Homo sapiens: one gene and its partner. The protein of the gene in region 1 purifies or fractionates together with the protein of each later gene. This does not show direct contact. Each region holds a gene or a part of one and is shown on either strand. Other genes may lie near its edges. The genes, in order: HMCES and HSPBP1.

The links.
Region 2: the proteins of HMCES (region 1) and HSPBP1 purify together in Homo sapiens (affinity purification with mass spectrometry; 2 studies listed by BioGRID and IntAct, with this or other methods). This does not show direct contact.

Annotation. Positions count from the first base shown.
Region 1 is NC_000003.12:129,274,660-129,284,865, forward strand, and holds the start of HMCES (abasic site processing protein HMCES), read left to right. Parts: upstream 1-4,210; 5' UTR 4,211-4,246; intron 4,247-4,314; exon of another isoform or gene 4,315-4,552; intron 4,553-5,050; 5' UTR 5,051-5,073; coding exon 5,074-5,256; intron 5,257-10,206. Other genes in the region: COPG1 (coatomer subunit gamma-1), read left to right, coding at 179-317, 535-633, 2,635-2,765.
Region 2 is NC_000019.10:55,260,900-55,271,037, forward strand, and holds the end of HSPBP1 (hsp70-binding protein 1), read right to left. Parts: intron 5,388-10,138; coding exon 5,232-5,387; intron 5,084-5,231; coding exon 4,987-5,083; intron 4,491-4,986; coding exon 4,379-4,490; intron 1,784-4,378; coding exon 1,709-1,783; coding exon of another isoform or gene 1,471-1,708; 3' UTR 1,324-1,470; downstream 1-1,323. UniProt on the Homo sapiens protein: Inhibits HSPA1A chaperone activity by changing the conformation of the ATP-binding domain of HSPA1A and interfering with ATP binding. Interferes with ubiquitination mediated by STUB1 and inhibits chaperone-assisted degradation of immature CFTR.

The DNA of each region.
Region 1 (10,206 bases):
GGGCACCTCAAGGATAGGTACCTGGTCAAGTTGCTCTATGTCCCCAGAGTCTAGCACAGTCCTCAGTGCCGAGCAAGCACCTGTGGAAAGAGTTGCAGGAAGGGATGTGTGGATGAGTTCAGAGCAGAGGCCCGTAGGTGTGTAGATGGGTGCCTGATTTCTACCTCCATCTCTCCAGCTGGAAGATCTGGAAGTTACTGTAGCTGATCACATTCAAAAGGTCATGAAACTGAACTTCGAAGCAGCCTGGGATGAGGTAGGGGATGAATTTGAGAAGGAGGAAACGTTCACCTTGTCTACCATCAAGACACTTGAAGGTAAAATCCTGGGAATGCCATCTCTGGCCTAATTACTGTTCAAGATCTTTGGCTACTATTGAAGTGCTCATCCCTTTTCTCTCCAAGGATCCAGGGCCATGTCTGGAGCACATATGTCAAATGCCACTTCATTAAAAGCCCTTCAGAACATGGGGGAGTGGTGGTGGCACAAAGGGCAGATAAGATGGCTTAACAATATTGGGATTTCTCATTACAGAGGCTGTGGGTAATATTGTGAAGTTCTTGGGAATGCACCCTTGTGAGAGGTCAGACAAAGTGCCGGATAACAAGAACACCCACACGTTGCTCCTGGCTGGTAAGTGGCATTTCTAGATGGGGAGGGCCTGGATAGCTTACAGCCTGGATGCCACTGGATCCTGGGCTAAGGACTCCACTGTAAATATGGGGAGTCAAAATTCACAGCATTTAAAATTCACAAAGTATAAAATAATCTGCAGCGAAATGTTTCCTCCCTACCTTGGCTGCCAGCCATTCAGATTCCCTTCCGAGAAGCGACCAGTGTTACTATTACAAACAATACTTGTATAACCTTGCGGTTATTTTATGGCTATAAAAGCTAATAGGAACGCATTTCCTTTTTTTAACTCAAATGTTTATGTACAAATGGTATATATATTGTCCTCCGATTTGCTTTTCACTTTACATTGCATCTTAGAGATCTTCCCCGTCAATATGTAGAGCTTCCTCATTCTTTTTCTTTTAATTGTGGTAAAATATACATAAAATTCACCATTTCGACCATTTTCAAGTGTATGGTTCAGCGGCATTAAGTACATTCACACTATTGTAAAACTATGACCACCATCCATCTCCAGAACTTTTTTCATCCCAAACTGAATCCTCATTTTTTTTATAGTTGCTTAGTATTCCATTGTGTGGATGCACCACATATTCTATGGAACAGCCACTACTGATGAACATTTAGTTTGATTTCAATCTCTTGCTATTACAGATGTTACAGTAAATAATCGTGTACACACACACACACACACACACACACAGTTTACTTTGCATGTGTACACTGAGAATATCTGTAGGATAAATTTTCCAAGGCATCACCAGTTCAAAGTGATTTGTGTTTCTCATCTTGATAAATAACTCCAAGTTGCCTTCCATAGAATTGTATACCTTTCTTCCTACACTGTGGACAACATAATATGTTACCACACTTTATGATCTTTTCCAGTCTGTGTGGACAATGATATCTTAGTGTAGTTTTTGTATTTTCAATGAAGTTAAGTATCTTCTTAAATGTTGAGGCATTTGTATTTCCTTTTCTGATCATTGTCTTCATATCCTTTGTCTTATTTTCTACAGGGTTGGCTGAGTGTACCCACACTCATTCTCCTTCCCAGATTATTTACTAGCAAACTCCAGAAATAGCATTTTATATGTAAATCCTGTATCTGTATGTTTCTCTAAGAGAGAATGACCCCTTCCCTTTTTTAAAGGACAATACAATTATCATACCTAAAACAGTTAACAAAAGGAAATGGGATGATTTTTTTTGGCTGAGTGTTTATAAACAGGGTTGAAAGGAGGCTCTGCTTCAGTACCCTGCCTACAGCTGACAGTTTGTAGCCACATTGAAACAACCTAGTCCCCTGGGTCTTGCAGACACCTGCCCTGTGGTTTTCTCGTGGTGGGGCTGTCCCCTTCATTTGTGCTCTCAGATTCAGTCAACGTGCAAGAGCCTCTGTGACATGAGATATAAGCCTTTTATGTCCATCAGTTCATTTGAACTTAGCAGAAGCCTGAAATATGGTATTATCATCCCTGCCACTTTGTAGTTGAGGATACTGAAGTCCTGAGAGACAGTGACTTTCTTTTTTTTTTTTTTTTTTGAGACGGAGTCTAGCTCTGTCACCCAGGCTGGCATGCAGTGGCACAATCTCTGCTCGCTGCAACCTCCGCCTCCCGGGTTCAAGCGATTCTCCTGCTTCAGCCTCCCGAGTAGCTGGGATTACAGGCGTCCACCACCATGCCCAGCTAATTTTCGTATTTTTAGTAGAGATGGGGTTTCACTGTGTTGGCCAGGCTGGTCTCGAATTCCTGACCTCATGATCTGCCCACCTCAGCCTCCCAAAGTGCTGGAATTACAAGCGTGAGCCACCGCGCCTGGCTGAGAGACAGTGACTTTCACAGTGAAATCCCTCACTCAGGGATTTCAGCCCAGCTCTCCTGCCCGTTTCACTACACCAGAGCTGCCTTCATGGGTTGCTGCAAATGCCATCCTTAGCCTGCCCTGTACAGTCCCTTCTGCTGTATATATCTGTACTTCTCTCTTCCCTTCTAGGTGTGTTCCGGGGTGGTCATGACATCCTGGTGCGCTCCCGGCTGCTGCTTTTGGACACAGTGACAATGCAGGTGACAGCCAGAAGTTTGGAGGAGCTGCCAGTAGACATCATCTTGGCATCTGTGGGATAAGAGGCCAGCCTGCATAGGACCTCATACCCTTCCCCAACACTACCTGGAAGTTGTGCCTTCCTCATGAAACTGGCAGAAACCCCTTCCCAAGCTTCTGTATTGAAAAACAATTAGGAATCATTGCAGATTTTTTTTTATTCTGCTCCCACCTCCCACCCGGGACTACTTGCTGGTGACTTTTTTTTTTTTTTTTTTTAAATAGGGGATGATTTTAGCTTGTCCTAAATCTTGCTGTCCACCCTTCCAGGAAAGGGACATTGTAAATGAATAAAACATTCTCAACTCCTCTTGAATCTATCCCCCAAGAAACCATCTTATCCCTGTAATAAATCAGCATGTATTTATTGAATGATTGCTACTTCTGCAGACTCATGCTTCAGGGCTCCACCTTCCCCTTCAAGGCCTCCCCTAAAGAGGCAGAACACCTGCCCTGTCCCCCTTGCACCCACAGCCCTTTGGCTGTTGTAGTCCTGTGAGGCAGGACCCTCTCCCCGTCATCGCTGTCCCAGCACCAAGCCCAGGGGTGGGAGCGGTAGAGGGTGGTTGAGTGAATCAGCTAACAGGCAGAGTTCACACTCCCTCCCGTTCGTGCTTCTTCACAACGCATCCTCCTTTGATAGTCGATAAATGGAGGCTCCAAAGGGCTTGGGTCCTGTGTCTGATCGTTCCAGCATCTGGTCTTACATGGAGTGTGCCCTGGGGTTTCTGCTCCCTGTTCAGTTCAGCGAATCAGCATAGGCGAACAGCCCTCTAGAGCATTCTCTGTTGGTTGCAGATGAAGAATCTCCGGTTTAGGTCCCAAGGGGAGCAGGCTTTTAAACTCAAGCCAGGCTATTTTACCAACTTTGAGGCCAAAGTACACCCGAAAGGGCTGTTTTAAAAATCTGGGCCTCACCCTTAGAGATTCAGCTGAGGGGCTGGGGCAGGAAAGGCTTATTCTAGTGCCCACCAATGTTTGAGGGCGAAGTGCGCGATTCCTGGAAGTTCTTCTGACTTTCATTTCTTCAGTGTTCCTCCATTTTTGCCTCGCACTGTGAGGCAGCTGGCAGGACTGTGAAGTAAGGAGTGGAGTTTCCTGGTTTCCCGCCTTCCATGACCCTGTGCCCTAGACTCAGCGCGGCGGGAACCTTCCCTGCCAGCCCTGAAACACGCTGGGGGCGGGGAGGAAGGTTAACCCCGCCAGGGAACGGCCAATATGGAGGAAAGTGGAGTCCCGAGAAGCTTGGGATCGATATGTCTCCCAAGGCAGTCACTGTCTCCTGGGGAAACGGGAGAAAATTCATCCCAAACCGGAGGGGAGAAGACGCCGCCTCCGGGGCCCGAGGGCACCGCGGGAACCAAGGGCCCTTGGGGGCGGGGCCTGGCGCCGGGAGCGCGGGCTGAGGCGGGGCTGACGTGAGGGGCGGTGACGCGGGTGGCCAAAGCGGAGCGGAGCGGGGGTGAGGAGAGTCGAGGGAGGTGACGCGCGCTGCCGGGGCGAGGTGAGGGGAGGGGAGGCGACGCGGGCGGTCGGGGTATGGCGAGGGGAGGGGAGGGGAAAGGAAGCGACGCGAGCTGACAGAGGGGAGCAGAGGCCCGAGCGGACGCGAGGCGACGCGGAGAGGGCGGCCTGGGCCGAAGTGAGGCGACGCGGGGCGGCGGAGTCTGAGGGCCGGAGCGGAGCGGAGGCGACGCGGGGAGGGGCGAGGGATCGCGGCCGGTGGCTGGGGGCCACCTGCTCCCCGAGCACCGGCCCCCGCTCCGGGGAGCAGAGTCCGGAGCGGGATCCGCGGCCCACAGGTTCGCAGGTCGGGCCCGGGGACGCTGCGGACTAGCGGGCGGGAGGCGGGGATTCTGCACCCCGGCCCCGGGCCGTCCAGTGGCCGCCCTCGAGGTGACCGGTTGCTGGCCGGCGTGGGTCGCTGACCCCAGCGGGGACTGGGGGGAAGGACGGGGAGTTGGGGGCACCAAGTCACCCGGAGGAGGCGACCCCAGCTAGCTGCGCTTGCCCTGCTTCGCTGGACTGTGAAGCCCCCTCCGCTGCGGCTCTTCCTGCGCTCAGGCAGGCATTTGCAGAGCTCCTCTCGGGACTTGCCTCAGTGCCCTGCACGGAGCTGGGCAGTGGGCTCAGGGAGCGAAGCAAACGGGCACATCCTTGTCTTTGTGGGACTTTTTGGGGAAGACTTTAGACGGTGGTCACGGAGGGGCACGGCCCTGTGGGAACGGAAAGAGAAGGCGGGGACTCAAGGAATAAGACCTAATATTTGAGATACGTAAGCCTTTTCCTTACGTTTTGTAATTTAAAGGTTGCGAGGGGCGGTGTTGAAGAATGTGTGGGCGAACATCCTGTCACTTACCTAGAGATGTTCTCACGAGAGCTTGCGCCTACCAGGATCGGCGGGGCCAGCAGCGGCTCCCGGAGTGGAGGGACCCTGATAAGTACTGCCCCTCTTACAACAAGAGTCCTCAATCCAACAGCCCAGTGCTTCTGTCTCGACTGCACTTTGAGAAGGTAACCAGCATTGCACTATGCTAGCCCCTCGCCCAGCCTCGTGATGGTCATCTCCTATTTGGTTTGGTGTGTGCTCAGCCTCTTGGGATGACATTAAAAACCAGCCTTTACTGATATATTCTGACTTCCAGTTGAGAACCTCTCTTGGCCTCATGAAAGAAGTTTTATCAGTGGCTTCTAACACTGATAAAGACGTATTTTTCAGGCTCAATTTAAATGCCTTTGCTATACATGGCATACTAGCCTTAATATATGCCAAATTTATATGAGCTTTGTGTTTTAAAATAGCAGCTTTCACTGATCATCAGGGTCATTGGAGTATCTTAAAAATATAATAAAAAAATTTAAGGCCAGGTGCCATGGCTCATGCCTGTAACCCCAGCACTTTGGGAAGCCGAGGTGGGAGGATCACTTGAGCCTAGGAGTTGGAGACCAGCCTGGGCAACATAGGGAGACCCCATCTCTACAAAAAATAAAAAAATGAGGTGGGAAGATCACTTGAGCTGGGGAGGTCGAGGCTTCATGAGCCATGGTTGTACCACTGCACTCCCACCTGGGTGACAGATCAAGACCCTGCCTAAAGAAAAAATTTAAAAAAATAAAAAATTTAAGAATATTTCTATGCCCTTTACCAGGCCAGCTTAATCAGACTTCTCTAGGCCTAGGACAGGCTTAAGATCAGTTAATTTAAAACACTTCTGATGTTTCTTGAGCATTGAAAAGTTTTATTCTTTCTGCTTGTGTTTTCAATCTTTTTGTGTTTGTCTTTTACTAAGGCTAGAAACACGTATTTGGTTTGGTTATCTGAAGTTTAATTGCATTCATTGTGTTTATAGTATTTATCCCTGTAGTGTTGGAATTACCAGTCACTTACATTCATATTTTAGTTTTTTGCCTTATCTCCTGAAAGTGTGTGTGTCTTTGTATGTGTGTGTAATAAAAATGCTTCGTTCTAGAAAGTAATAGTTTCTCCATGTCTTAAATATTTTAAATGACCTTGACATGTTTTTAAAAATCGTGATTGTTGGCTGGGCACGGTGGCCCACGCCTGTAATCCTAGCACTTTGGGAGGTGGAGGCGGGCGGATCACGAGGTCAAGAGATCGAGACCATCCTGGCCAACATGGTGAAACCCTATCTCTACTAAAAATACAAAAATTAGCTGAGTATGGTGGCACGCACCTGTAGTCCCAGTTACTTGGGAGGCTGAGGCAGGAGAATCACTTGAACCTGGGAGGTGGAGGTTGCAGTGAGCTGAGATTGCACCACTGCACTCCAGCCTGGCGGCAGAGCGAGACTCCATCTCAAAAAAAAAAAATTGTGATTGTTTCCTTCCTGAATTTTGACTGTATTTGATTCATAATGCTGAAATCACTTTATAAAGTTGATTATACCTCTGGTACATACTCTTTAAACTTTTGTGATAATATGATAGTCAAAAAGGACTCATTTCTGCATTATAGGGAATCACATCATTTTGAAATAAAGATAACAGGCTGGGCATGGTGGCTCACACCTGTAATCCTAGCACTTTGGGAGGCCAAGACGGCTGGACCACCTGAGGTCAGGAGTTCGAGACCAGCCTGGCCAACATGGTGAAACCCCGTCTCTACTGCAAATACAAAAATTAGCTGGGTGTGATGGCGGGCGCCTGTAATCTCAGCTACTTGGGAGGCTGAGGCAGGAGAATCGCTTGAACCCGGGAGGCGAAGGTTGGGGTGAGCCAAGATTGTGCCACTGTACTCTGGCCTGGGCAACAGAGTGAGACTCCATCTCAAAAAGAAATAAAGATAACAAATAATGGCTGGGCACGGTGGCTCACGCCTGTAATCTCAGCACTTTGGGAGGCTGAGGCGGGGCAGTGGGATCTCTTGAGGTCACGAGTTTGAGATCAGTCTGGCCAACATGATGAAACTCTGTCTGTACTATAAAAAAAAAAAATGTGGAGGTTGCAGTGAGTCGAGAATGTGCCACTGCACTCCAGCCTGGGTGACAGAGCAAGACTCAGTCTCAAAAAAAAAAAAAAAAAAAAAATCAAATAATGTTCTTGGTTGAATGAAGCCATTTATATGACATAGTTATTTTTGTGTCATTTTTAGAGGATGCATACTTCCCTATTGAAACTTTTTGTTTTAAATGAGAGGGGAATCAAAATAAAATATTCTGGAGAACCTTGAAGGGGAAAAGAGAGCATAAAACATATTTCAAAGGAAAGCATAACTTAGAGTGAGAATAGAGAGCAGGATTAAGTGTATGAGCCTGGCCAGGCCTGGTGGCTCACGCCTGTAATTCTAGCACTTTGGGGGAGGCTGAGGCCAGAGAATTGCTTCAGGCCAGGATTTCAGGACACCAGCCTGAGCAAATGAGACCCTGTTTTTAACAAAAAAAAAAAAAAAAAGCCTTAGTCATTTATATGACCTCCTTAGAATTATAGAAAGTTAGCTGGAAGAAAAATTTGTCTAACAGATGTAAAGATAGAAGTATACATAGATTATGACTTGTCCTAGGTTACCTAATCAGTGAGGGACAGAACTAGAACTGAGATCCAGACCACCGTCCCCACTCCAGTGGATGCATCCTGGAACCAGGAATGGGGAAGGTGGAGCCACTAGCAAATACAGCCCTCATTTGGGCCAGTGGTATGAATTTGCTGATATAGTATTTGATTTCACATCTCTAACAAGTTTTATTAAGATTGCTATGGTTTCTTAATTTTGATAATATTTGATATCTCATTTTTCTCAGACCTATAAATTATAAAGCAAAATTAGAACCATTTTAGCAGTTCATTCAAATCATTAACAGCCTGCATATGTATATAGATAGCAACATTTTCATTTGAAACCACAGATTTGCAAATTACTTCCTGTTTCATTTATCCACCCCAGTGCTACCAGGTGTTCTGTTCAGAAGTCCAAAAGGGTAGAGGAAAGATGACTAATATTGAGCAATGGTCTTAGTATTTTGGCTTTTCAACTACTTTCTATTCGTCATTCTCACATTTGGATTTGGTTTACAGTTGTCAAGGGTACACTCTCAGCGCTGATCAGTGGAATTTGTGAGAGCAGAATTCTCAACCTTGACACTGTTGACAGTTTTGGCCAGGATAATTTTTTGTCATAGGGAGCTATTCTGGGCGTTGTAGAGCGTTTAGCAACATCCTCTACCAGCTAGATGTCAGTAGCATCCTCCACAATAGCATCCCCCAGATCAGAGCAACCAAAGGTATCTCCAGATACTGCCAGAAGTCTCTGGATGGTGGGGAGGGGTGTGTCAGAATTGTCCCGTACTGAGAACCACAGATTTTTTCAGTATTGTTGTCTTGCAAATTTCTGATGAAAGATCATTTAGTTGACCATTGCGTAATGTTGTCTCATTCTCATTTATGCACTGAGCTGGGGGTCCTTCTGCTTGGAAGACTTTTTTTTTTTTTTGGAGACAGGGACTTGCTGTGTTGCCCAGGCTGGAGTGCAGTGGCGCAATCATGGCTCACTACAACCTTGACCTCCCAGGCTCAAGCGATCCTGCTGCCTCAACCTCCCCAGCAGCTGGGATCACAGGCTTTTCCTTTTGACATTTTGAGGGGGAAGTTCTCACTGTGTTGCTCAAACTGGTCTCAAGACTCTTGAGCTCAGGCCAGGTGCAGAGGCTCACACCTGTAATCTCATTACTTTGGGAGGCTGAGGCAGGTGGATCGCTTGCAGTCGGGAGTTGTAGACCAGCCTGACCAACATGGTGAAACCCTGTCTCTACTAAAAATACAAAATTAGTCGGGTGTGGTGGTGCATGCCTGTAATCCCAGCTACCTGGGAGGCTGAGGCAGGAGAATCGCTTGAACGTGGGAGGCGGAGGTTGCAGTGAGCCAAGATCGCGCCATTGCACTCCAGCCTGGGCAACAAGAGCGAAACTCTGTCTCAAAAAAGAAAAATCAACCTTGAGCTCAAGGGATCCTCCCCACTTGGCCTACCAGAGTGCCAGGATTATAGGCTTGAGCTGCCAGAAGGCAAATTTGATTCTGGAAGAGAAAGAGGATTTATGAAATCTCTGTTTTCAACTGTTCTTTCTCACAAACACACACAAACAGTCCTCATTATTCTTAGATTCCATATTTCCAAATTCACCTACTCACTAAAATTTATTTGTAACCCCTAAATTCATACTCACTTTGCTTTTGCAATCATTGGTGCACATACAGAGAGCTGACAAATTTGAGTACCTTGATGTTTCCAGCTGAGGTTGATCGAGGCAGAGCTCTGCCTTCTTGTTTCATCTCTTACGTTATAAACAAGTATCTTTTTTGCAGCCAGTTTAGTGCCATGTGTGATTTCACTGTTTAAAATGATCCCAAGCATAGCACTAAAGTGCTGGCTGGTATTCCCAAGCTAAAGAAGGCTGTGATATGTCTTAAAAAGAAGATATATACATTGGATAAGCTTTAGTCAGGCATGAGTTATAGTGCTCTTGGTCTTGAATTTAGTGTAAATGAATTAAGAGTAAGTTTAAATTAGATGTCTTTAAACAGAAACACACATAAAACAAGGTCATATATTGATCAGTTGATGAAAGTGTCGTCACCAGATGCTGTTAGAAACATAACCTTGCATTTCCCTAAGAGCAGCAGTTCAGTACTCAAAGCAACTTTATGAAATCTAACTACTGCAAATAAAGGGAATCAACTGTTTGTGTGTATATATATGAAAAGAGAATTGGCCGGGCGCAGTGGCTCACACCTGTAGTCCCAGCACTTTGGGAGGCTGGGAGGCTGAGGCAGGCGGATCACTTGAGGTCAGGAGTTCGAGACCAGCGTAACCAACATAGTGAAACCCTGTCTCTACTAAAAATACAAAATTAGCTGGGCGTAGTGGCACATGCCTATAATCCCAGCTACTTGGGAGGCGGAGGCAGGAGAATCGCTTGAACCTGGGAGGCAGAGGTTGCATTGAGCTGAGAT
Region 2 (10,138 bases), on another chromosome or scaffold:
CACTGCAGCCTCGAACTCCTGGGCTCAAGCAATCCTCTCGCCTCAGCCTCCCGAGTAGCTGGGACTACAACTGGAACTTTTTTCTTGAGACAGGATCTCAGATCCTGCAGCTACCTCTCAATTTATCCTGGATTTAGGAAGAGGAGTGATAAAAACCAATCCAAATAGACTCAAAAATCCCAGATCCACCAGAACAATCCACACAAAAGGAATGAGTCTGACATCAAATTGTCCTAGGAAACCAGGATACAAGAAAGAGGAGGATTGGCCGGGCATAGTGGCTCACACCTGTAATCCCAGCACTTTGGGAGGCCGAGGAGGGTGGATCACCCTGTCAAGAGTTCAAGACCAGCCTGGCCAAGATGGTGAAACCTGGTCTCTACTACAAATACAAAAATTAGCCGGGCGCGGTGGCAGGCGCCTGTAATCCCAGCTACTTGGGAGGCTGAGGCAGGAGAATCTCTTGAACTCGGAGGGTGGAGGCTGCAGTGAGCCAAGATCGGGCCACTGCACTCCAGCCTGGGCAACAGAGTGAGACTCCCGTCTCAAAAGAAAAAAAAAAGAAAGAAAAAGAAAAAGAAAGAGGAGGATCGCTCTGGAATTAGTCCAGCTGTGAATCCTGGCTGTGAACTTGGTCAGGGGTCAGCCTCCTCTGAGCTCAGCCTCCTCTCTGGAAAAACAACAGCTTTCAAAGCTCTTGTCTACAAATGACAAAATTTCTTGTAGCTAAACAGAAAAGGAATTTATTAAAGGAATTGAGGCAGCCTCCGACACCCCCACCTCCCGCCCCAATCCCACGTCTCTGAGAAAGCTACAGAATCCGCTTGGCGCTTTGCAGTCAGGAATGAAGCCCACACCCAGCCACAGGCCTGCTCCTGAGACACAGTGCAGCCTCCATCAACGGCACCTGGCTCAGACACTCCCGCCAGAATCTCTGCCAGCCCTGTCCAGAAGCCAGGTGTGGCTGCTCCTGCACTAGCCAGAAGGGAACCTGGGCAGGGGCCCCTCCACCGCCAACTCTTGGCCCGACGACCGGCGGGCTCTGATTGGTAGAGGAGCTAGACCACCAGCGGGTTCTGATTGGTGTACAAAACAGATTCCCAGAGAGAGTTCTGATTTGTGGAGCTAATGTCACATGATTACCCTACAGCAAAGGATGCTGGGAAGGGAAATGGCGGCTACCCTAGGGAAAATTTAGATGTCTAACCTGGGAAATTCCTCAAACCTAGAATTCAGGTTTGCCAGGTGGCCGAAAAAAGGACAGATGTCCCACACACTGTTGCTCAGGAAAGACAGGGAAGAGTAAATGACACAATGGCTCTATAGATGATAAAGAGCAACACTTTTATTATTCTTCCAGTGGCTCCCCAAGTCCCTTAAACCCGTGCCCCTCCTCCCGTCCCCCATGCACCCTCCAAAGGAGATGACAAAGGCGGCAGTGAAGGAGGAGAAGGAGGAAGAGAAACACCTTTATTGGAAGAGCTGTGTGGACAAGAGAACGGGGATGAGAGTGAGAGCATGGGAGGTGGGGTCCAAGGAGCTGGTGCCTTTCTCAGCGCCCCTTCCAGGGACTGCACAGAGACGGGCTGGCACACCCTGGGTCCAGGCACCTAGGCCCTGCGATCCCTTGGGAGAGGGCCTTGTAGGTGGGGAGGGAGGCAAGAGGCCTGGGGTTCCCACGGAGAAGGGGGCAAGAAGCCACCTGGTTTCACCGATCCATGCTGTCGTCCGCTGGGCTGGAGAAACAGGTCTGTAGCAGCTTTTCACAGAACTCCAGCTCCTCCTGGATTGGGCAGGGGCAGGGAGCAAGGGGCCTGAGTGCAGAGGCCGGACCCTGCCTCCAGCATTCTTGGCACCCAGAGGTGACTCCTCTTCTCTCCTGGCCACCACCCACTCCCCCCCACCAGAGGTTAGGCTTTTTTAATCACTGCTCAGATCCATGATTCACTGTCTTCACACTGGTGTCTGAACTACTTGAACTAGAACCCGGGGTCCCCCAGACTCGTCTCACTCCATTGGTCTGCCTCATATCAGCACTCTTGGGCTCTTTCTAACTCCCAGATATGGACCACTGCTCAAAACTTTCTGCGGATACAAACCCCAGAAACCATGAAAGAAAGCACTGAGAGGTTAAACTACGTAATATAAAAAATACTCCCATGGCAAAAAAAGAAAAAGAAAACGAGGTTGGAGAAAAATATTTGTGATTCATAGCACAAATGGCTAATATACTTAACTCTTAAAGAGCTTAAAAAAGTCATTCGCAAAAACCATCACCCAATAAATAGATAAGTGGGCAAAGGATGAGAACGAACAGTTCACAAGAAAGAGAAAAGATGCCAAATTTCACTCATGGGAGAAATGTAAACTGGACTGGAGTACTACTTTTCAACAATCAGTTTGAAAAAAGGTCAAATGGTTCATCGAGGCCACTTTGTCCTGACCAAGATTTGGGGAGTTGGGCACCCTCATGACTGGAGTGTCAATGGTTGAACTTCTATGGAGAGCAGCTTGGTGATAGCTAATGAAACGGCCCTTAACCCTTTAACCTTCACCTTTAACATACCTGACCCCAGCCATTTCCCTTCTAGAAATTGTTCTACAGACATATGTAATAACATATACAAAAGGTTATTCTTTCAGCAGTGTTTGTCATAGCGAGAGTGTAGAAACAACCTGCATATCCATGCTACAAAAAAGAGCCCATCCGCACTGTACAGCTGCAAAATGAAAGAGCCACAGGCGAGACATGCAATGCCCACAAAGCAAGGGGCAGAACAGCCATCACAGCACGGCAGGCTTATTTTGCATAACATAGAGAAAAAGGAGAATTCACATGCACCTTTGCTCGTGTGTACCTAATATTTTAAGAAGGACACCTGAGCAACTGGGTAGCCAGAAGGAGGGGCAGGAGAGAGACTTTTCACTGTTTACCCTCCTGCGGGTCTTGTATTTTCAACCATGTGACTACGGAACCTATTCACAAAGCATTAGTAAAATCTGTTACAAATCTAATTTGAATGTTTCCACGGGTGTATACATAAGTCAAAACTTCTCATGTAGTACACTTTTTTTTTTTTTTTTTTTGAGATGGAGTCTCACTCTGTCGCCCAGGCTGGAGTGCAGTGGCGCATCTTGGCTCACTGCAACCTCCGCCTCCCCGGTTCAAGCGATTCTCCTGCCTCAGCCTCCTGGGTAGCTGGGATTACAAGCACCTGCCACTATGCCCAGCTAATTTTTTGTATTTTTAGTAGAGATGGGGTTTTACCATGTTGGCCAGGCTGGTCTCGAACTCCTGACCTCATGATTTGCCTGCCTCGGCCTCCCAAAGTGCTGGGATTACAGGCGTGAGCCACCATGCCTGGCCATGTAGTACACTTTCAATACATACAGACACTTGACAGTGTCTACACAGGAATGAATCTAATAGAATATAACGTCCCAAGGAGGTGGGTGCGTTTGCTAAGCTCGGCTTTGCTGAAGCACCAGCATTGATTCATTCACTTCAACAAATTAATGCATTACTTAATCAGTTAACTATTTGAATTTTAATTAGTTGTGATTTAGCATTTGTTACTTATCTAGTTATCTAATGAGTTATTTATTTGCCCCTTATCTAATTAAATATCTGATGACTTGTTATTTATCACTTGTTATTTACCCAAAATAATTGGTTATTTTTTGCCATTTGTTATTTCTTGTCAATTTAATGAAATAGTTAAATCATTAAGACATTTGAGTGATATTATATTCAATTTACATTTACTTAATGTAAAACAACTGTATTGGGTAATTTAGATAATAATTCAATGATTGGGCAACACTTTAAGAATCTCCAAGCTCCTGTCTCCTTGCTGTCTCTCCTACTCTGACACAGCACGGGACGAATGCTAGGCATGAAATAAACATCTGCTGAATGGAAGATAAGTGAAATGCACGAGAACACGAATGAAAGCCTGAACCAGCGGACCCAGGAGCCCCCAAGGGCAAGGACTGGCTGGCTCTGCCCCTACTAGGGTCCCCACTACCACACTTGGTCTAACCTGGGGAATTCCTCACCCCCCAGGCCCCTCCCCCTCACACCTGGTCCTCCTCACACCCTGTCCCTTCCCCAACTCACCTGGTCCTTCTGGAGCCGCTGTCCCCTCCCCCGGCACACGATCCTCCTCGAACCCCATCCCCTGCCCCTCACACCTAGTCCTCCTTGCACCCCGTCACCTCCCCGTGTACCTGGTCCTCCTGGAGCCCCTGTCCCCTCCCCCTGGCACCTGATCCTCCTCGAACCCCATCCCCTCCCCACACACCTAGTCCTCCTGGAGCCCTTGTCCCCTCCCCCTTGCACCTGGTCCTCCTTGCACCCCGTCCCCTCCCCATGTACCTGGTACTCCTCATGCTGCTGCAGCAGCTGACAGCGGTGGCGGAGGAGCTCCTCCAGGCCCAGTTCCGGCTCCCGACACTCGCGCACACCCTGCGGAAAGTCTGTCACCAGGCTGTGAGGGACATGACAGCGGCCCTTAGGACCTCCCTCTAGAGGCCTCACTGACCCAACCCTATCGCCCGCCCCGTCCCCTGGCTCACTCAGGAGCCTGGCAAGTCGCTGCCCCACAATGGGCCTCCATTTCCCCATCTGCGGAATGGACCTCACGCTGCCCCTGGCCCAGGGTGGGTGCTGAGGGGCTCAGCACAGGGCCTGGTGCGTGTCAACTCTGGTGTGCTGTTGAGAGCTCCAGCATCATCTGATTAGACACTAATCCACTGGTGGGGGCGTGTACAGAAGCCTCTCTCCCTCCTGCAAGGCCTCTGTGCCAGCCCTACTGGTGAGGAAACTGAGGCTCCCTGACTCCTGCTCCTTTCTGGCCCCACACCCTTCCTCTCTACGGGAAGGTCCCAACTCCTGAGTCCCTACGGGCTGATTCCTGAGCCACCCCCACCTTGAGAGGACGGGGCCCCCACCCCAGGCCCCGTCCTCTCAAGGAGCCAAAGTACCTGCACAGGGCTCCAAGCACGTGCTCGTGGAAGGGGCTGTGCTCTGTCCGCACCAGGGCCACCAGCTGCTGGACCATCCCCATGGAGCACAGGGTCCCTGGGGGGAGGGCTGCAGGGGTCAGAGGGGCAGCCCCACCCATCTCCTATGCCCTCCCCGGGATGCCTGTTCCTCCCCTTCTCCCACACCTGCACCCACCCCAGGGCGTCTGCTCCCCACTCCTGCCCTCACTCAAGGGCTGCCACACCTTTGTGTTCAGGGTGGCCCACCAGCAGGTTCTGCAGCAGGAATGCTGATTTGACCTTGAGCTTCTGCACCTGCTGCTGCATGGCCCTCATCAACACAGAGAAGCCGTCCAGGCGGAGGAACTGCAGCAGCCCAGCCTCCTGCTCTCGGACCAGACCTGGGAGAGGGGGAAAGGTCCTGAGCTTGCAGTCACCACCACCACCACTGTCATCACAAGCACCATCACCAACATCATCACAACCACCATCACCAACATCATCATCACCACCATCACCACTATCTTCACCACCATCACAATCATCATCATCACCATTCTCATCCTCACCACCATCACCATCACCACCATCCTCACCACCACCACCATCACTATCACCATCACCACCACCACCATCACCACCACCATCATCACCATGACATCACCAACATCACCATCACTATCACCATCACTATCACCATCACCACCACATCACCATCACCGCCATCATCATCACTACCATTAACAATATAATTATCGTCAATCATCGTCACCATCATCACCACCAACCACTATCATCCCTTGCCATGGGCCTGCATATGCAAGCATTATCTTTTTTTGAAGTATGCTTTTGAGATATAATTCACAATCCACACAGTTCAGCCTTTTAAAGATATTCACAGGGTTGTATAACCATCACCACTAACTCTAGGAAATTTTCATCACCCCCCAAAGGAAACCTATGAGCAGTCATTCCCAATTTCCCTTCCCTCTGGCCCCTGCAACCACAGATATACTTTCTTCCTTTATGGATTTACCTGTCCCAGACATTTAATATAAATGTGTCCATAAAATACGTGACCTTTTGTGTCTGACTGCTTTCACTCAGCATGATGTTTTCCAGGTTCATTCATGTCGTAAGTGGTATCAGCACTTCATTCTTTTTCATGGCTGAATAACATTCCATTGTATGGATATACCATATTTTATCCATTCCTCCATTGATGGAAGCATCATCTTTTTTAATTTTTTTATTTTATTTATTTACTTATTTATTTCATTTTGAGATGGACTCTCGTTCTGTTGCCCAGGCTGGAGTGTGCAGTGGAGCAATCTTGGCTCACTGTAACCTCCGCTCGCAGGTTCAAACTATTCTTCAGCCTCAGCCCCCCAAGTAGCTGGGATTATAGTAACCTGCCACCACACCCGGCTAATTTTTGTATATATAGTAGAGACAGGGTTTCACCATGTTGGCCAGGTTGGTCTCAAGCTCCTGACCTAAAGTGATCCACCTGCCTGGGCCTCCCAAAGTGCTGGGATTACAGGCATGAGCCATTGCGCCCGGCTGTGTCATCTCTCTCTTTTTTTTTTTTTTGAGACAGAGTCTTGCTCTATCATCCAGGCTAGAGTGCAGTGGCACCATTTTGGCTCACTGCAACCTCTGCTTCCCAGGCTCAAGCTATTCTCCTGCCTCAGACTCCCGAGTAGCTGGGATTACAGGTATGCACCACTACACCCAGCTAATTTTTGTATTTTGAGTAGAGACAGGGTTTTGCCATGTTGGCCAGGCTGGTATTGAACTCCAGACCTCATAATCCACCTGCCTCAGCCTCCCAAGGTGCTGGGATTACAGGCGTGAGCCACCGTCCCCAGTCCGCAACATCTTTTAATCCTCACAATTATCCTGGAAGTGTGTGCTTTCAGAATTCTATTTTACAGATGAGGAAACTGAGGCCTAAAGAGCCAGGCTACACAGCATGCATGACCTTTATCCAGAGGGCAATGAGAACTCTGGAAGGACTCCCAGCAGGATGAGAACTGACCTTTGGAGTGCACCTCCAGTAAGGTGCCCCCTCCTGGGTAGGCTCTAGGCCTGTGCTGGCCAAGAAGGACAGAAGCTGCTAGTAGCTTGTGGCCACTAAACACCTGATATGTGGCCAGTGCAACTAAGGAAAAGAGTTGTTCATTTCATTTAAGTTCCATTCATTTAAACTTAAGGTGAAAAACTGAAGCAGTGTAAAATATTTTCCATTAAACACAACGTTGGCTGGGCGCGGTGGCTCATGCCTGTAATCCCAGCACTTTGGGAGGCCGAGGTGGGCAGATCACTTGAGGTCAGGAGTTCGAGACCAGCCTGACCAACATGGTGAAACCCCGTCTCTACTAAAAATACAAAATTAGCTGGGCGTGGTGGCGTGCGTCTGTAATCCCAGCTACTAGGGAGGCTGAGGCAGGAGAATCATTTGAACCCGGGAGGTGGAGGTTGCAGTGAGCCGAGATTGCGCCATTACACTCCAGCCTGAGCAAAAAGAGCGAAACTCCATCTCACACACACACAAAAAGAAAACCAAAAAAAGAAAAACACACACAACGTTGTTGCTCTGGCGCACTCCACACTACCCCTGAAAACTCAGCATGTTGCGATGTGCTTCATTTGTAAAATGCACACACTAGGTTTTGAAGACTTAGCATGACAAAAAATACAGTGTCTCATTAATAGTCCATATTAATTACACATTGAAATTATAATAGTTTGGACATATTGGGTTACATATTTATTTATTTTAGTTTATTTTATTTCATTTTTGAGACAGAGTCTCGCTCTGTCGCCCAGGCTGGAGTGCAGTGGCAGTTGGCTCACTGCGACATACGTCTCTCGGGTTCAAGCAATTTTTATGCCTCAACCTACCGAGTAGCCGAGATTACAGGCATGCCCCACCATGCCTGGCTAATTTTTTGGTATTTTTAGTAGAGACAGGGTGTCACCATGTTGGCCAGGCTGGTCTTGAGCTCCTGGCTTCAAGTGATCCACCTGTCTCGGCCTCCCAAAATGTTGAGATTATAGGCATGAGTCACCACGCCCAGCCAGATGTTATTTAATTAAAGAAAGAAAAAAGAACAGGCATGCATGGACTGGAAAACACAAAGACTCCTCTCATTCAATCTGTAAGCAAGGCCTGTCAGCTCTACCTTCAAAATGTACCCAGGAGAGACCTGTCCCCTTTACGCCAGGGTTTCTCCACCTGGGCACGGTTGGTATCTGGGGCCAGATCATTCTGGGTTGGGAGGCCCGTCCTGTGCATTGCAGGATGTTGAGCAGCATCCCTGGCCTCTACCCAGTAGATGCCAATAGTCCCTCTCTCCCAGCTGCGACAACTAAAAATGTCTCCAGACATTTGTCTAAATGTCCTGTGGAGGACACGATTGTCCCTGTTTGAGAACCACTGCTCCCTACCACAACCTTGATCTCTTGCCTAGGTTATCACCATAACCCCCCAGCTCACCGCCCACCTTCCACCCACCCTCGCCGCATTCACCCTCTTCTCTGTGCAGCAGTTGGGGGCAGGGATCACAGTATGGCTGCCGTCATTTTTGGAAAGAAAGCCAAAGTCATCACTGCAGCCCACACATCTCCCTTAAAAAAGTTACGCTTATTCAGCGCTAAAAAGAAATGAGCTATCAAGCCAAGAAAAGACATGGAAGAACCTTAAAAGCAGATTACTAAGCCAAAGAAGCCAGTCGGAAAAGGCTGCAGATTGCATGGTTCCAAGCATATGACATTCTGGAAAAGGCAAAACTATGGAGACAGTAAAAAGCTCAGGGGTGGGATGACTAGCGGGAGCACAGAGGATTTGTAGGGCAGCGAGATTCCTCTGTAGAATACTACAGTATGGATCCATGTCATGATACAGTTGTCCAAACCCATAGTACATACAGCATCAAGAGTGCGCCCCAGTGTCAACTATGGACTCTGGGTGACAATGAGGTGTCCATGTAGGTTCATCGATTGTAATAAATGTGCCACTCTGGTAGACTGTAACAAGGAACCACTTTGGAGTGGCTCCACAGAGGGCGAGCGAGTCCATCCCCTCCTGTCCTGGGAAGGGCAGTGGCACCACCGCCTCGGGCAGCAGGAGCTGAGGGGACGTACCCTGCAAATGGCTCCCAGCACGGAACTCCAGTAATGGTACTGGACAGCCACACAATGGCATACCCTGCAGCCACCAAAAAAAAGGACAGATGCCACTGAATGGTATACTTTAACATTTTCATGTGAATTTTACCCCCGAGCAAAAAAAAGAATGGCATCCAAGCTCCCAGAGCTCTTGCCCTGCATCGTGCACAACTTTCGCTGGGGAAGCCGACCACCACGTGGTGAGGCCGCTCACGCAGCCCGAGCTTCCTGCCAACTGCCAGCAAAACTCTGCTAGCCCCGGGGCGAGCCATGGTGGAAGCCCATCTCTAGCACCCCTTCCTCAGAGGGGGATTGTGAGGGATCAATGAGGTGCAGCGCACAGGGCTTAGTGCAATGAGACCTTCAGGGAACGAGGCCCGGCTGACGGCTGACCACAACCTCATGCAACCTCATGCAACCTCATGAAGACGCAAAGCCAGAAGCCGCCCTCCTCAGCAGGGGCCACTGCTGCATTCCTCACCCGCAGGAAGGGGAAAGATAAGCTACTGTTGCTTAAGAAAAAAGGACAGAGGCAGGTCAAGGTGCGCCACAGTCAGGATGGCCTGTGCCAGCCGTGCACATCTGAGGAAACGAGATTAATCCGTGTGTCTGTGTGCACACATACCACACACGACACACTCCACATAAGCACACACCACACACCCCGTATACACACACCACATCCACACATCCCACACACGCCATGCACATCCACACACCACACATACGCACCACACATACACACCTCATATGCACCCCACATACCCCACACATATACATACATCCCCCCAGCACACACATCCCACACACATACACATGCAACACACACACCACACACACCTCCACATATATACCACACACCACACAACCCATGTACACGCTACACTAACACACGACACGCCAAACACCCCACATACACACCATACACACCCTACACACGCGCCACACACCCACTACACACACACATCACACACACACC